2 linked regions of the Homo sapiens genome follow. The protein of the gene in region 1 interacts with the protein of each later gene in a pairwise test. Each region holds a gene or a part of one and is shown in the gene's direction. Other genes may lie near its edges.

What was found. The genes of interacting proteins can lie anywhere in the genome.
Region 2: the proteins of C22orf39 (region 1) and DTX2 interact in binary tests that used the Homo sapiens proteins (3 or more experiments, as listed by UniProt).

Annotation. Positions count from the first base shown.
Region 1 is NC_000022.11:19,440,286-19,442,608, reverse strand, and holds the end of C22orf39 (synaptic plasticity regulator PANTS), read left to right. Parts: 3' UTR 1-914; coding exon of another isoform or gene 915-965; 3' UTR 966-1,723; downstream 1,724-2,323. UniProt on the Homo sapiens protein: Negatively regulates long-term potentiation and modulates adult synaptic plasticity. Stabilizes the interaction of RTN4 isoform A/Nogo-A with its receptors, inhibiting clustering of postsynaptic AMPA receptors at synaptic sites.
Region 2 is NC_000007.14:76,478,656-76,482,315, forward strand, and holds part of DTX2 (probable E3 ubiquitin-protein ligase DTX2), read left to right. Parts: intron 1-1,765; 5' UTR 1,766-1,854; coding exon 1,855-2,122; intron 2,123-3,660. UniProt on the Homo sapiens protein: Regulator of Notch signaling, a signaling pathway involved in cell-cell communications that regulates a broad spectrum of cell-fate determinations.

The DNA of each region.
Region 1 (2,323 bases):
CGACAGAGTGAGACTCTTGTCTCAAAGATAAAATAATAAAATGAGTTTGCAGCCTGCATGTGATGCCTGGGATTGCAGCAGCTGCCTTCAGGTTCCTGGGGCAGAGCTGGAGAGTGCAGCAAAAGCCAGGGCATGCCAGCCAGCACCCCAGTCCATGAGGGGCTTCCCCTCAGTGCAGCCACGCTCCCTGCCACCTGCTTGTTTAGCAAGGTATGCATTGTGCGGCTGCATGCTCTGTTAGGAAGCATTAAGTCCTGCCTCTGTAGTGTGACTATCATGTTTTGCCTCCTCCTTCACTACTCAAGTTCCACATCAACAGATAATCTCTCTGGACAGGATGTTCCTGCATTTGTTTCTATGTCAATTGCTTCACAACATCTGAGTGTCCACATGTTGGACAGGGTTTGAGGCTTATAAGACCACAGTTTTGAAACAGACAAGTTGTCTTCAAAGAGTTTCTGTTGTAGTTTGGGTAAAAGACAGACATTAAACATCAATAAATAGGAATTTAAAACGGTGGCTGGATGTGGTGGCTCACGGCTGTTATCCCAGCACTTTGGGAGGCTGAGGTGGGAGGATTGCTTGAGCCCAGGAGTTCGAGACCAGCCTGGGCAACGTAACAAGACCCCATCTCTACAAAAAATAAATGAGCTATGCATGGTGGCGTGCATTTGTAGTTCCAGCTACTTCGGAGGCTGAGATAGGAGGATTGTTTGAGCCCAGGAGTTTGAGGCTGCAGTGAGCCATGATTGTGCCCCACTGCACTTCAACCTGGGTGACAGAGCAATATCCTGTCTCAAAATAAATAAAAATAAAATGGTGGTAATTTCTGAAGCAGTTTGGTATTTTATGGTGGTGGTATGAAGAAAACAAATACTGTAATAAGAGCAATATCTTTCAAACTTTTTGGACAGGTGCTAAGTGTGGTGGCTCACACCTGTAATCTCAGCTACTTGGGAGGCTGAGGCAGAAGAATCACTTGAGGATAGGAGTTTGAGGTTGCAGTCAGCTATGATCGTGCCACTGCACTCCAGCCTGGGCAACAGAGCAAGACCCCATCTCTAAATAAATGTTTTAAAAATAAAAATAAATGTTTTGGATAAAACCCCATATTAATAATAAGTATTTTACATTATTATCTGGCATAGACTGTTATATATAGCATATTATTGTTGAAATACAAAACAATATGTATCCGTACTGTATGTGATATAGTGCCATTTTCAGTAACTGCTGTACACACAGCAACTCAGATGAAACTCAAGGAAATTCTTCAGAGCAAAAACAGCCAATCTTGAAAACATACATGTAGCAGGATTCCATTTATGTAACATTGGTGAAATAATGTAATTATAGAGATGGAAAACAGATTAAAGGTTACCAGGGGTTTAGGTTAGGGATGGTGAGGGGGTGGTTCATACGAGGGAGTCCTGTGGTGTTGAAAACCATCTGTCAGCCTGACTGGTGGTTACACAGGGCTATACATGAAGTTAAAATTGTGTAGAGTTAGGTACACAAAGGAGTACAGATGTAACTGGGGAAACTGAGTATGTTCTGTAGACTGTACCAATGTCAATTTCTGCGTCCTGATGCTGTGCTGTAGTGTATAAGGTGTTAACATTGGGGGAGGCTGGGGCAAGGGTACCCAGGACCTCCCTAGACAACCTCCTATGCAACCTCCTGTGAATCTATAATTACTTCAAAATAAAAAGTTGAAAACAAACTGTCGGCCATGACCTACCAAACTGATTTTACAACCTAACAGATGAAACCTACTGTTTAAAAAAAAACACTGCTATCAAGCACCTGTGCTGGACACTTACCTTGGGCGGGGAGGTGGGGAAGGCCTCAGTGTCTGAGCCCAGACCTGGGTGAAGAGGCTCAACTCCTGTCAGGCAGAGAAAGGGACCCACAAAGGCAAAGGGACCTGACACCATGTTTTGACCAGAGCGGGTGCTGTGAGCTGTGATCAGGAATCTGGGTATGCGATTCTCTGGGTGGCAGGTAGCCAAAGACCTGACCTGACCTGGTTCTAGAGACCTCTGGCTGCTGTGTGGAGAAGGGATGGGGTGGTTAGATCAGTTGGCCACTGCAATAGAACAGGCAAAAACTGACGATGACGTGGACCTCAGAGGCAGCAGTGGAGGTCATGAAAAGTGGTTCCATTCAGCATTTGTCTCAGGTGGGGCCAAAGGACTTAGAATCCTTAGGCAACATTTTTATCCAGGACTGATAAGAGTTTTAAAACGAAGTTTTTTTTTTTTTTTGAAAAAAGCAGTAGTCCCAGCTACTTGGAAGGCTGAGGTAAGAGGATCGCCCAGGC
Region 2 (3,660 bases), on another chromosome or scaffold:
TCCTGTCGCAGCCTCCCTAAACACTGGCATTGCAGGTGTGAGCCACCACACCCAGTCCCCTTGACCTCTTTCAGCCTTGGTTTCCTGTCCGTAAGTGGGAGAAATGTCACCTTGGCAGTCTGTGCAGCTTAGGAGAGACAAGTACATTTGATGTTGGTTACTAAATGTTGGACCCTGGACCGGCACTCCAACAGCCGGTGCCCTGGGGGGCAGCCATCAGGTGGGGCATTTGCAGGCCTCTTCTTATTCAGACAGCTCCAGGTGCTGAGCGGAATCATTGTCCACATTCACTCTGTCATTCTGAAGCAGTGTGTAGAACATTCTAGAACACTCACCACGTGGCATGCCCCTGCTGGGTCCCGGTGATGCAGCTGTGAATGAAGCAGGCTTGGGGTTGCTGCCACCTGGGGAGGAGCAGAAGGACTGTGGTCACAGCCACACGTGGACGCGGTTACTAGGGTTCTGGTGGGTGCTGTGGAGGGTGCAGAGGGCGTGTGATGGGTCATCCTGAGCGATGCAAGCTGGGCCTGGAGGACGTGGAGTGTTCGCAAGGGAAGAGGGTGGGCTGGAGTGACTGCAAGGAGAAGGTCTCGGGAGGTGGAGCTCGGGATGTGGGGAAGAGCTCCCTGGGCCTGGTGGCCGGTCAGCAGGGGCCAGGTCGGGGAGTGGGTGCAGAGAGCCTTGGAGAGGCCAGAGAGGGGTGATTCGGTGCCCATCTAGGGCTTCCTTTTTGGTTAGCAATGCTTCAGGGCACCTGGGAGACATGAGGAGCTAGAACCTGTGCTGCAGTTCCCAGCTCTGCCCCTGCTCCCTGGGTGTCCCAAACCCTGCTCCTTTCCAAGAAATGTTGGGATCTCATCTTCAGGATGGTGGGTGCTAATAGGGAGGCTGAGGTGGGTGGATCACCTGAGGTCAGGAGTTTGAGACCAGCCTGGCCAACATGGTGAAACCCCGTCTCTACTAAAAATACAAAAAATTAGCTGGGCGCAGTGGTGCATGCCTGTAGTCCTAGCTACTCGGGAGGCTGAGGCAGGAGAATCACTTGAACCTACCCGGGAGGTGGAGGTTGCAGTGAGCCGAGATCACACGCCTGGGTGACAAGAGGGAAACTCCATCTCAAAGAAAAAAAAATACATGCATGATGAAACACACTAAGCAGTTGGGTCAGAGGGGAATTATCAGTAGCAAGAAAGAAGCTGGGCTGGTGACTAGCACCCGGAATTTATGCTCTCTTTCTTCATGGGCCTGTGCGGCGGTACGTAGGCTGCGGGATTGACTTTGAATTCTTCCTGGCTGCCACAGCAAAGAGACAGGATCAGGTTCTTGATTCATGATGCCCTTAAGGTGTTAGGGGAAGAAAAGCAAGCGTGAGACCAGGCGCGGTGGCTCACACCTGTGATCCCAGCACTTGGGAAGGCTGAGGCGAGTCTATCCCTTGAGGCTGGGACTTTGAGACCAGCCTGGGCAACACAGACATCATCTCTACAAAAAGTAAAAAAATGAGCTGGGTGTGGTGGTGAATGCCTATTGTCCCAGCTGCTCTGGAGGCTGAGTTGTGAGGATTGCTTGAGACCAGGAGTTTGAGGCTGCTGTGAGCCAAGATCACACTGCTGCACTGTAGCCTGGGTGAGAGAGTGAGACCCTGTAACCAAAAAAAAAAAAAAATCAGCTGTGGAAAAGCATCACGTGTTTCCCCTGCGCTGAGGCTGATTCTGCAGGGCTACTGATGTGCATTGGTAACTGCTCATGTCTGTCCTGTTCACAGATCTGCCGGAGGCGCTGGGCAATGACCCCGGGACTCCAGGCCAGAGGGGTCTGAAGCTGTTTGGGAAAGCAGCGGGACTCCTTGGGAAGATGGCCATGGCCCCAAGCCCTTCCCTGGTGCAGGTGTACACCAGCCCCGCGGCTGTGGCCGTGTGGGAATGGCAGGACGGGCTGGGCACCTGGCACCCCTACAGTGCCACCGTCTGCAGCTTCATCGAGCAGCAGTTTGTCCAGCAGAAGGGCCAACGTTTTGGGCTTGGGAGCCTGGCCCACAGCATCCCCTTGGGCCAGGCAGACCCCTCGCTGGCCCCTTACATTATTGACCTCCCCAGCTGGACCCAGTTCCGCCAGGACACCGGTAAGACGCTGTCTGCCTCTCGCACATATCTGGGTGCCGCACCTGCTTTCCCACAGGCTCTGCGCCAGGTGTTGGGGTGATGGACGTGACTTACAGAGCTTCTGCTCTCTCCCTGCAGCACACGTGGTGGTGGGTGGGTGCAGTGAGTGGGAACATCCACATAGGTTGAGTGCAGCTCACAGTGGGAGAGGCACTGTGGGAGGCCCTTCCCCTTGTCTTGCAAAGCAGAAATGCCTGTCCCGACCACAGAGGTTGAAGGGTTCCTTTGGCCGGCAGGCCGGCATGGAGGTGGTGCGTCATAGGAGTTCAGAGGGCCCTGTCCCACCACTCAGTGGCTGTGTGCCCTGGGCAGGCAACTGCGCCCCTCTGCATGTGTGCGTTTCTGCTTTTTGGTCTGCGATGTGTTTTGATCTTTTTTTTTTTTTTTGAGACGGAGTCTGGCTCTGTTGCCTAAACTGGAGTGCAGTGGCGCAGTCTCGGCTCACTGCAACCCCTGCCTCCTGGGTTCAAGCGATTCTCCTGCCTCAGCCTCCCGAGTAGCTGGGATTATAGGCATCCACCACCACACCTGGCTAATTTTTGTATTTTTAGTAGAGACGGGGTTTTGCCACGTTGGCCAGGCTGGTGTCGAGCTCCTGACCTCAGGTGATCTGCCTGCCTCGGCCTCCCAAAGTGCTGGGATTACAAGCATGAGCCACCGCGCCTGGACCTGCAGTGTGTTTTGATCAGTATTATTGAGAATGAGGCACCAGTTTCCTCTCGGAGCCATCCCTTACTCTAATCTGGTGGTTGTCACTGGGGGTGATTTTGTCCCCGGGGCCATCTGACAATGTTTGGAGACATTGTTGGTTGTTACAGCTGAGTGGGTGGGAGGTGGGGGTGCTCCTGGCATCTGGTGGGTGGAGGCCAGGGATGCTGCTCGCCATCCGGCAGTGCACTGGGCTGGCCCTGCAGTAAGGAATTATTGGCCCACAGTGTCACCAGTGAGGAAACTTGAAAAACTGGTTTTTCCTTTTTTTTTTCAATTTTAATTTTAGTTTTATTTTTAAAAGTATGGGTTTTTTTTTTTCGTGTTTGTTTGTTTGTTTGTTTTTTGTAAAGACTGGGTCTCCATTGCCCTGTGTTGCCCAGGCTGGTCTTCAACTCCTGAGCTCAAGTGATCCTCCTGCCTTGGCCTCCGAAAGTGTTGGGATTACAGGCTCGAGCCGTCATGCCCAGCCCTGGAAACTATGTGTTTCCAGGAGTGTCGTAGAGTCTGTGAAAACTGTGGCTGTCAGTCAGCTCCCAAGTCGTTGCCTTCACAGTGTGTGAAGTCAACTGAGAAAGATAGCAGACAGGATAAATAATAACATGGAAATTGCATATCGTGGCAGAGAGCAGGAAGTGTTAATCGGGGAATGAAAGTGGCAGGTGTTGTAGAGGTCGATTTGAAGTTAGCTGGGTGTGGTGTCATGTGCCTGTAGTCCCAGTTATTTAGGAGGCTAAGGCAGGAGGATCGCTTGAGCCCAGGAGGTCAGGGTGGCAGTGAACTATGATCA